Linked DNA regions of Homo sapiens: regions 1, 2 and 3 are each linked to region 4. Evidence: fine-mapped expression QTL. A gene starts in region 4. Each other region holds a variant in brackets. All regions are shown on one strand. Distances are between the middles of the regions.

What was found.
Region 1: its variant is fine-mapped to the expression of USP30-AS1 in whole blood (INTERVAL, PIP 0.99).
Region 2: its variant is fine-mapped to the expression of USP30-AS1 in whole blood (TOPMed, PIP 0.98).
Region 3: its variant is fine-mapped to the expression of USP30-AS1 in T cells (TOPMed, PIP 0.98).

What each region holds. Positions count from the first base shown.
Region 1 is chr12:109,078,848-109,081,536 of GRCh38, forward strand. It overlaps USP30 (ubiquitin specific peptidase 30), which reads left to right. Exons shown (of 13, transcript NM_032663.5): 8 at 2,487-2,546. Among named protein-coding and RNA genes, the nearest start is that of ALKBH2, 13 kb to the right of the region's middle. The variant A/G (reference allele first, on the strand shown) is at 1,481.
Region 2 is chr12:108,968,622-108,971,310 of GRCh38, forward strand. The region is part of intron 5 of SVOP (SV2 related protein); the gene reads right to left. Among named protein-coding and RNA genes, the nearest start is that of SVOP, 51 kb to the right of the region's middle. The variant G/A (reference allele first, on the strand shown) is at 1,363.
Region 3 is chr12:109,005,869-109,008,557 of GRCh38, forward strand. All of the region lies in intron 1 of SVOP (SV2 related protein), which reads right to left. It overlaps LOC105378256 (a long non-coding RNA gene), which reads left to right. Exons shown (of 3, transcript XR_945331.3): 3 at 1,212-1,853. Among named protein-coding and RNA genes, the nearest start is that of SVOP, 14 kb to the right of the region's middle. The variant A/T (reference allele first, on the strand shown) is at 1,538.
Region 4 is chr12:109,052,903-109,055,591 of GRCh38, forward strand. It overlaps USP30-AS1 (USP30 antisense RNA 1), which reads right to left and starts at 1,063. Exons shown (of 2, transcript NR_038996.1): 1 at 784-1,063. The region is part of intron 1 of USP30 (ubiquitin specific peptidase 30); the gene reads left to right. RefSeq lists enhancers at 1-367, 701-1,070.

The sequences.
Region 1 (2,689 bases), 26 kb after region 4:
TTTGGGTTGACAGTGTTGCCGTGGTTTTGCTTTGGTTTATTTTAAATTCATCACTTTAAGGACATTGTTCTATTGTCTTCTGGCCTCCATTTTCTCAGTTAGTGTCATTTATATCATTCTTGTCTATGTAAATTGTCATTTGTTTTTCTTCTGCTTACACTGCTTACAAAATTTTCTCTTTATTTTTGTTCATGCTGCGCATAGATGTGGTTTTCTTAGTATTTATCTTATTTATCTTGTTTGGGGTTTGCTGAGTTTCTTAAATTTGTACTTTTTTTAACCAAGTTTGAAAATTCTTGGCTGTTATTTTTTCAACAAAGATTTTATGCCCATTTTTCACTTGTTATTTTACTTAATGTTGGCCCACAGGTCACTGAGGTCTTGTTCAATTTTCTTCAATCTTTCTTCTGTGTGTTCTTTAAATTAGATCATTTCTATTGACTTATCTTCACGTTCACTGATTCTTTTTTCTCTTTTTTTCTTTTCTTTTTCTTTTTTTTTTTCTTTTTTTTTTTTTTTTTTTTTTTTTTTTGTGACAGGGGTCTTAGCTCTGTCACCGAGGCTGGATTGCAATAATGTGATCATAGCTCACTGCAGCCTCAACCTCCCAGGCTCAAGTTATCCTCCCACCTTAGCCCCCTGAGCAGCTGGGACTACAGGTGTGTGCCACCACACCCAGCTAATTTTTTTTTATTTTTTGTAGAGACAGGGTCTCACTGTGTTGCTCAGGTTGGTCCTGAACTCCTGGGCTCAAGTGATCCTTACACTTCAGCCTCCCAAAGTGTTGGGATTACAGGTGTGAGCCACCATACCTGGCCTGATTCTTTTTTCATCTCCAATCTCTGTTTGCCTATGCAACAAATTTTTCATCGTAATCACTGTTGTTTTTAGTTATAGAATTTCCATTGCCTTCTTTTTAATAGTTTCCATTGTTCTGAGATTCTCAATTTGTTCATTCACTGTCACTGTATATTTTCCTTTACATCCTTGAGCATATTTATGATACATCTGTGAGGTCCTCGTGTGCTGACTTCTTTGTATTTTATGTTTGGTAATTTTTTATTGTATGCTTAACATCATAATAGAGACATAGAGAGTAGGGATTCTGTTACATATCTATGAAGAAAAATTAATTTTCTTCTGGCCTGCAGTTAACCTGGCTGGGCTCAAACTCAACTCTGTCTCCCCTACATTGGGCAGCAAAATCTCTGCTCAGTTTTTTTAGCTTCCAGCTGCTACTTTTTGCCAGGCTCCCTGGAGTTTCCCCCTGTGCACGTGTGGTTCAGGGATCAGCCCTGGAATTGAACAGAGTTTAGGTATAAACTTTGGGGCTCATCCCCTCTGTGTCTCCTTTCTTCCTGGCATTTCCCCTGGTCTCTCCACCAGCCCTGATTCTTGAACTCTGTCGTCTGACCACTCAATCCTGTAGGATGCTGCTTTTCGCCACCCAGCACCACATCAACCAGGAAAAAAAGCCACA[A/G]ACACACAAATCTCGCCCACAGAGTTCTGTTTTTCCAACAGTTGACTTCTTTTCCATTTCTGCCTGCTTTTGGTAGCTCTCCGTTCATTCAAACGGTTTTGTTTTGTTGCAAACTTTACAATTGTTATCTCAAGGAGGGCCAATCTACCCAAGCACCTCTGCCATCACCAAAAGCAGGAACTCTCTCACCCTACTTCATCGTCTCCTTTTTTGCAATGAATAATCTAACATGAACATCTTTCCACATGATCATATGTTCTTCTACATTTTGTTTAACATAGTGTTTCATTCTGTGGACATGCCATATAATTTATTAAACCATTTGCTAGAACTTCCAACTACAGTCATGTGCTATATAATGATGTTTTGGTCAATGACAAACCACATATATGATGGTGGTCCCGTAAGATTATAATACTTTATTGGTACGGTACCTTTTCTGTTTTTAGATACACAAGTACTGCCCACTGTGTTACAGTTGCTTACAGCATTCAGTACGGTAACATGTTATACAGGTTGGTAGCCTAGGAGTAGTAGCTAGACAGTATAGCCTAGGTGTGTAGTAGGCTGCACCATCTAGGTTCTTGTAAGCGCGCTCTGCGATGTTTACACAATGATGACATCACCTAAGGATGCATTTCTCAGACTGTATCCCCATTGTTAAGTGATGCTGACTGTATTCAAATTTTTGCTATTACAAATAATGTTGATGAATATTCTTGTAGTTATGCCCATGGTTATTTCCTTAAAAATCCCAAAATTATTGCTGGGTCAGATATTTAATCTTTCAGTTGTTCCAAGCGATTCTTTAGTATTATTGTACCTCTTATGTGTACAAGGTTGTTTTAATATGTTTTAATAGAATTTTATTCTAAGTACATTATATTTTACTGTGTTAATGTTGGGCATCTCAATATTAAACTGTTTCATAGTCACATATCTTGCATCTTTAAAACTTTGAACTAAGCCTAAATCGTTTCTGGATTTTCTGCAATATTTCTTTCAGAGTCCTGTTCGATTTGATACCTTTGATAGCCTTTCACTAAGTATTCCAGCCGCCACATGGGTATGTACTGATTTATGGTTTATTTGGAGTCTGTTTCAGAAACATTTCAATCTGAAAGGGCTTTGAGGCATTTTATGTGGCTCAGGCACTATGTGTAATTCAGATACATGGTTGGTTGAACCCTCTCTTAACTTTCATATGGT
Region 2 (2,689 bases), 84 kb before region 4:
TTTCTGTTATATTCCTCACTGCCTTATGATTCAGCAATTGGATAGCAGAATTTGGGGTTCAGCAAATTTCCTCATTATGGATTCCTGAAGTGTGTGTGTGTGTGTGTGTGCATGTTTGTCTTTTGTGTGTGTGTGTGTGTGTGTGTTTGTGCATGTTTGTCTCAGGAACAAATAAATGAATTTTTTTTTCCAGACAGAGTCTCGCTCTGTTGCCCAGGCTGGAGTGTAGTGGCATGATCTCGGCTCACTGCAGCCTCCCCATCCTGGGTTCAAGCAATTCTCCTGCCTCAGCCTCCTGAGTACCTGGCACTACAGGTGCATGCCACTGGGCCTGGCTAAGTTTTGTAGTTTTTGTAGAGATGGGGTTTCGCCATGTTGCCTAGGCTGGTCTCTAACTCCTGAGCTCAGGTGATCTGTCCTCCCAAAGTGCTGGGATTACAGGCATGAGCCACCACTCCTGGCCTCCTTTGATTATTTTAAAGGCTTAAAGATTAACATTGGATTCAGCCTCAGACAGCCACAGCTTTACAGTTCTTTTAACGGCTGCTCAGCTCCATCAAAACAAAAATGACTCTGTTTTATTTTCAGAGGTGTTTTTTCTTCTCTCCTTCCTTCCCTCCTCCTTCCCTCCCTCCTTTCTTCCTTTTTTCTTCCTTCTCCCCCTTCCTCACTCTCTCTCCCTACCTCCTTCCTTTCTTCCTCCCCCCTCCCTTCCTACCTCGCTCTCTTTCTCCTTTCTTCTTTCCCCCTTTCCTTTTCTTTCTTTTTTTTTTTTCTGAGACAAATTTTCACTCTTGTTGCCCAGGCTGGAGTGCAATGGCACGATCTCGGCTCCTGAGTAGCTTACAGGCATGCGCCACCATGCCTGGCTAATTTTGTATTTTCAGTAGAGATGGGGTTTCACCATGTTGGTCAGGCTGGTCTCGAACTTCTGACCTCAGGTCATCCTCCCACCTCGGCCTCCCAAAGTGCTGGGATTACAGGCATGAGCCACCGCGTTCATGCCCTCTTTAGTTCCTTCCTTTTTTTCTTCCTTCCCTCCCTCTGTCCCTTCTCCCTCCCTCCCTTCTTCTTTACTTCCCTCCTCCTTTTTTTTCCTTCCTTCCTTCCTTCCTCTCTCCTGTCCTTAAACTCTTGTTCATTCTTCCAAACAGAAAATCACCATGCCATCACTCATATGCTCCAGAAACAGGAAGTGGGTGGGAGAGCAGATGGGGGCAGAATCTAAGGAGCTGCCACTGAAGACCAGAGTAATTCCTTCTTGGGTTAACAGGGGGGTAATAACCAGCTTTTACTTCCTTTGGGAGCCCCAGAGAGGCCTTTCCAACTGCCATCTCCAGCCCCATCACCGGCCAAGACCCC[G/A]AGGCCCATCATGGCTGCATTTAGTTTCCAGCCTGCTGCCTCTGGAGTTACATTCTTGGCAATTATATTGATCACCATTTCTTGGCAGTTATATTGATCACCATCTTCCAGGTGTCTGCTGGCCCAAGTTTCCTGCGCAATAGCAGTGAGAGGGGATGCAGCTGGAGTCTGCATCCTCTATGGCATTGCTGGAACGTTCATTCATTCATTGAGCCATCACCTGCTTCTGGAGCACCTACTGATTCAAGCCACAGGCATCATAGTGAAGACAGAGCTCTAGACTTAGAATGAGCAAGACCTGATTCTGTGATGAGCAAACCATGTGGTCCTGGGTAAGTTGCCCACTCTCCGTGCCTCAGTTTCCTCTTCTATCAAGTTAGAGTGATAATAGCACCTACTTCAATGGTTATTAAGGGGATTGGATGAGCTAACGCATGAACCATACTTTGCATCATGCCTGCTATACAACGCGCTATTTTATTTTCAGCCCATGATTTGCTAGTTGTAGTGGAGATTGCCTGTTACCTACCCAGCATCCAGATCTCACTTCTTCCTTCCTAACAGAATTCTAGGTTTGTTGAGGTAGCCCATTCCCAGCTCCAGTAGTAGGTTATTCTTAGTCTAAGCCAATCGTTTTCAAAGTATGGTCCCAAGCATTGACATTGCATGGGGTCTTGTCAGAAATGCTACACTCGGAATTTCAGTTTACATGTGTCCTGTGCCTAGCATGTGCCTGGCATTGTACAAAGAGATTCACACAGTGGCTCACATCTGTAATCCCAGCACTTTGGGAGGCTGAGGTGGGAGGACTGCTTGAGGCCAGGAGTTTGAGACCAGCCTGGGCAACATAGTGAGACCCTGTCTGTCTACAAAAAATAAAAAAACAATTAGCTGGGCATGGTGGCACAAGTCTTGTCCCAGCTACTTGGGAGGCTCAGGTGGGAGGATTGCTTGAGCCCAGAAGGTCAAGGCTGCAGTTAGCTATGATTGCACCTTTGCACTCCAGCCTGGGCAACAGAGCAAGACCTTGTCTCAAAAAAACAAAAGAAACAGTGATTTACACCTCAATTAACCCTAATTCATCTCTATTAACCCTCCAATACAGGTTCTGTTATTTTCTTCTTTATACGTATTAGGAAATTGATAATCAAAGAGGTCAATTTGGCTGAGCACAGTGGCTCATGCCTGTAATCTCAGCACTTTGGGAGGCCATGGCCGGTGGATCACTTGAGGTCAGGAGTTTGAGACCAGCCTGGCCAACATGGTGAAACCCTGTCTGTACTAAAAATACAAAAATTAGCCAGGCTTGGTGGCAGGTGCCTGTAAT
Region 3 (2,689 bases), 47 kb before region 4:
CACACAGAGCCCTGGAGGTCACAGTGAGGATTTTCTGTGTTGTCCTAAGACCAGTGGGACACCATGGAAGGGTTTCAAGTAGCAGCAAGAGGGTGGAAGATGATCAGAGTTGAGTTTTGAGAAGGTCACTCAGCACATTCTCCCGCAAGAGGAGGAATCAATGGAGGAAAGTGGGTTGTTTTGTTTTGTTTTGTTTTGTTTGAGAAAGAGTCTCACTCTTGTCACCCAGGCTGGAGTGCAGTGGCACAGTCTCGGCTCACTGCAACTTCTCACTCCTGGATTCAAGCGATTCTCCTGCCTCAACCTCCCAAGTAGCTGGGATTACAGCTGCCTGCTACCACGCCTGGCTAATTTTTGTATTTTTAGTAGAGATGGGGTTTCACCATGTTGGCCAGAAAGGTCTCAAACTCCTGACCTCAGATGATCTGCCTACCTGGGCCTCCCAAAGTGCTGGGATTACAGGGTGACCCACTGTGCCCACCCCAGAAAGCGTTTCTTAAATATAGGTTTTAATATTATTTAGGTATGGCAAGGCTGAGAAATCACGAGATGTGAGCCATTGACAAGATATACTCTGTCATACTTACAGATCCCAAGAAGAAGGGGCATGCCACACTTTAAGGGGCACACATGGCAGCCCCAGGGTTTGTCAGGAGGCAGAGGGTATAGGGGGAGAACGTGACCAAGAGCCTTTATTGTGGTTTCCCAGGAAAGAAATGGGCAAGGCAGAGGCTGCCGGCTTAGGTTCGGTTCGTTTGAATAATTTCATCCTTCTCTGGAGCATAGGGGCTGTCCTTAATTGTCTCATGCCTGGTTCTGGGGTGATGAGGGCAGGTAGATGTGGCCTGGAGTCTGGGAGCTGGATAAAGAAGGCGGCTGGAGAGACCTGAGGCTCTGGCCTGATTGGTTTGTATAGGAAAGGCACGCTGGCAGGTGAGCTGTTTGCTATTTCTAGGAATTAGTTAACTCTGAGAGGGGCAAGTCCCTCCAGGGTCAGCAAGCCTCCAAGATGCTGAAGCATCAGAATATAAACAATCAATGGCCTGGTTAATACAAAAAGATGGCTGCAGAGGAGTCAGGGAGGCCAGGAAGGAAGCTGTGTGGCCAGTGGGAGAAGAGGTGGTGGTGGTTTGGATTAGGGGGGTTGGAGAGGTGGAGGGCTGAGGCTTTTGTTAAATATTCATCCCTTTCTCCCCAACTCTTCCAAATAGTACAAGAAGACATCTTCATAGGGAGGCTCCTCTGCCAGTGGAAGGCAGGGTTGCAAGAAGGGATCACCTTGTTTGGGGAACTCGATCAAAAACACTGATAACCAGTATCCCTCAGCTTTGTCCCAGATACCCTGGTGATGTGGCGTCTTCTGAATCTGAAACTTATCAACAAATGGAGTTAGATGCTGTGCACTTGAAGCAGCAGAGACTGCCAAGGTCACTAACATATGGACTTGCTTTGTCTCCTTCAAGACAAGACCTGGGGCACTCCCTGAGCTGTAGGATTTGAGAAGAGTCTTCCCAGGAGATGAACCTCTTCTTCAAAT[A/T]TTTGAGGCTCTGACCTGTGAAAGAAGGTGCCTCTCAACCTGAATCCTAACAGCAGAGCTTGAACTTCTGGGTATAAGAAAGAAGGAAGCAGATCTCAACTCAATATAAAGAGGAGCCTTATCAGGCACAGAAGTCGAGAGATGAAAATGGCTGCTTTAGGAGGCAGTGGGCTCACTCTCATGAGAGGCACTGCAACAGAGGCAGGTGTCCCTGTGATTGGCTCAGGAGTAATGATATTTAATATTTATGCATCACTTCAGCATGCCAGGTCCAAGCCTGAGTGTTATAAACTATCTTATGTAATGCACTCAACAATCATAACAGGGAAGTATTATTAATAACTCTAGTTTCAGCCAGCACAGTGGCTCATGCCTATAATCCCAACACTTGGGAGGCTGAGGTGGGAGGATCACCTGAGCCCAGGAGTTCGAGACCAACCTGGGCAACATGGCAAGACCATGTCTCTACAAAAAATTAAAAAATTAGCTGACCGTGGTGGTACGCACCTTTGGTCTCAGCTACTGGGGAGGATGAGATGGAAGGATCATTTGAACCCAAGAGGTGAAGACTGCAGTGAGCTATGATTGCACCACTGCACTCCAGCCAGGGTGACAGAGTGAGACCCTGTCTCAAAAAAAAAAAATCTCCAGTTTATAGACAACTAAGCTGAGGCTGGAGAGGTTACACCAATGGTTCCAGGTCTCCTAGATAATATGCAGTGTACTAGGACCCTGGCTCAAGTAGCTCCAAAACCCATGATCTTAACCAGTCAGCCAAAGCTTCTGTACCTGAAGCCAAGAATACCCCTGTGGAACTGATTAAAATGCTGATTCCTGGGCCATACTCTAGACCTAATAATGCTTTTGCATCTCTACAGAGTGGGGCCCAAGAACCTGAATTTTAATAAGATGTTGATGGCAGCCACAGAAGTCTGAAAGTCACCATCTGATGCCTGCCTGCTCTGAACTGGGGAGATGGGGTGTGAGGGGTTGGATGTGATGACCTTTAAGTTTCCTTCCATTTCTGAATGTGTTAGAAGTCTATAATTAATGGAAATTTTAGTTCTCTGTGGATTTTATTTATTTGCATTTTTCTGCCATCCCCGTCAACCTGAATAGCAATGAGCTTGTTCCTAGGATAGCAGACCACTA
Region 4 (2,689 bases):
GAGGCCTGGGCCCGTAGGTGGGAGGACTGACGGGCTCCAGTCCTTCGGCAACACCAATTCTGTCTGCACTCCCCAGGTCTGTCAGTCCCTCCCCCTCCTGTCATTGTTCCCAGGACACCCGGGGCACTCCAGTCTTGTCAAGGCCCCTAATTCTGTCAGTGCCCTCAGTCCTTTCAGTGCCTCCTAGGCCTGCCAAGACCCCTCAATCCTTCTAGTATACCCCCAGTCCTTCTGGGTCCCCCAATCATATCAGTTTCTGGACTGCCAGGGTTCCCCAACCTTGGCACGGTTCTTCTAGTCCTATAAGTGCCCCGGGCCTGCGAGCCCCGCGTTTTGTTAGTACCGCCCCCTATTCCTGTTAGCCCGCCCTCTAGTCTAATATGGATCGCCACTTCTGTCTGGGTCCCTGATGTTGTTAGTGTGAGTAAAGGCCCTTGTTTTGCAAGGGTCTCTAAATTGGTCAGGGCCCCTTTAACCTGTTAAGGTTGCTTGGTCCTGTTAAAGCCCTCCGTTCTTGTTAGGACTCCTCGATTGCCTGGGTCCCCAATCCTGTCAGGGCCCCCATTTCCCTCTTATTCACCCTCCCAAGGGCTCCAGGCTTCAGAACTGAGTACCCCCTCCCCCACTGCTGACCCCAAATGACTGAGACCTGTTGCTCAGGTCGGCTTCCTCTGGAACTGGAGCAGGTTTAAAGAGCTTATTATCCCAGGGCTGAAAGTCCTCGATACTTATCCTGTCCAGTGCCCCCATTCCGTAGATAGGAAGTGTGGCCCCATAGCTGACCTCATAGCAGAGTTGGGAGGAGAAGCCAGATCTTTTCATCCGCAGGCCCCACCACTCTCCTCGTGATGTCATTTTGCAGAGGAATGGAGTTTCCAAAGTCGCCACTTGTCCCTGGGTATTTTTTCCTTATGCTGCCAAAGTCATGGACAAGTCCTCTCTCCCATCCCCTTGACACTCTTCCCTTCAGTTTCCATCTTGAACTTCGTGGTTTTAAGCACAGACCTGGGGAGACAGACAGGCATGATTCAGAGCCATGTTCCTTCACTCACTGTGACCAAGTTGGGCTCTTAGTTTCTTCTGCTATAAAAATGAAAGTGATAGTAGAACCTGCATCTGTGGGGTTGTTTTAAAAATGAGGTAAGATTGTCACAGGGCCTGGCAGAGAGTATGTACCCTTAAATATTAGTGTTTGATTAGGGGATTTTAAAGCACTGGTAAAGCACCTTAGCACTTCCATGACAGTCCTTTATAATCTTTCCAGGCACTTTTGTGAACTCACGTATCGTGTAAAAGCACAGTGATGTATTAAGAAACTTCAAGAATACCTTTCACCAGCTGGGCATGGTGGCTCACACCTGTAATCCCAGCTCTTTGGAAGGCTGAGGCAGGTGGATTTCTTGAGCTCAGGAGTTCGAGACCAGCCTGGGCAATGTAGTGAGACCCTGTCTCTACAAAAAAATTTAAAAATTACCTGGGCATGTGGTGTGCAGCTGTGGTCCCAGCTACTTGGGAGGCTGAGGCAGGAGGATCACCTGAGCCCGGAAGGTGAAGATTGTGTTGAGCTGAGATGGCACCACTGCACTCCAGCCTGGGCACTAGAGCAACTAGAGCAAGACACTGTCTCAAAAAAAAATAAAAATAAAAATAAGAAAAAAAGAAAGAATAGCTTTCATGAATGATCCTGAGATTGTAATGCTTAATTTGTAGCAGCTAACATTTATTAAGTTCTTACTATGTACTGTATGCATTCACACTTATTTAATCCTCACAACAGCCCTATGAGGTAGGTCTTATGGATTGTCCCCATTGTACAGATGAGGAAACTGAGGCTTAGAAGGTGAAGTGATGCCAAATGAAATAGCAAAGCCAGGATTGAACCAGAATAAGGTAATCCCACTTTCTTAACCAAGTTTGGTGCATATTCTGTTGACTCTGTCTTGGAAAACAAATATTTATCTGAAATTCAGCTATCAGCTATGATACTAAGAAATGCTGATTATTATAAAACAGGGTCAATATTACCACCAGTGACTCTTCACCAAGTTAATGTTTACTGAACTGAAATCAAAACAATATTCACATGATCCAAATACTGGGATAATAATGTATTACACACACACACACACAAACACGTATGTATGCATGTGTAACATATATGCAGATACACATTACATAGCTATATACACATAGATGGTTTGTCTTATTTTGTAGAAATATATAACTTTGTATAAAAACAATGTTTTAAATTGTTGGGGAAATTTCTTAATATGTAGCAAAAGCATAACCAGCGTTCAAGTCAAGCCTGAAGTTAGGAAATCTTTAATTTTATAAATATTCAGCTCTTTTATACCATTGTATGTGTGCCCCTTCCCTGTCTAATATTCTAAAAGAGAAATTCATTTCTGTATATTTTCTCCAGTATTCAGTCATTCAATAAATATTTTATATATATATACACACACACATATATATACATATATATATATATATATATATTTTTTTTTTTTTTTTTTTTGAGGCAGAGTCTCGCTCAGTCACCCAGGCTGGAGTGCAGTGGCGCAATCTGGGCTCACTGTAACCTCCGCCTCTTGGACTCAAGCCATTCTGCCTCGGCCTCCAGAGTAGCTGGGATTACAGGCACCTGCCACCACACCCAGCTAATTTTTGTATTTTTAGTAGAGACAGG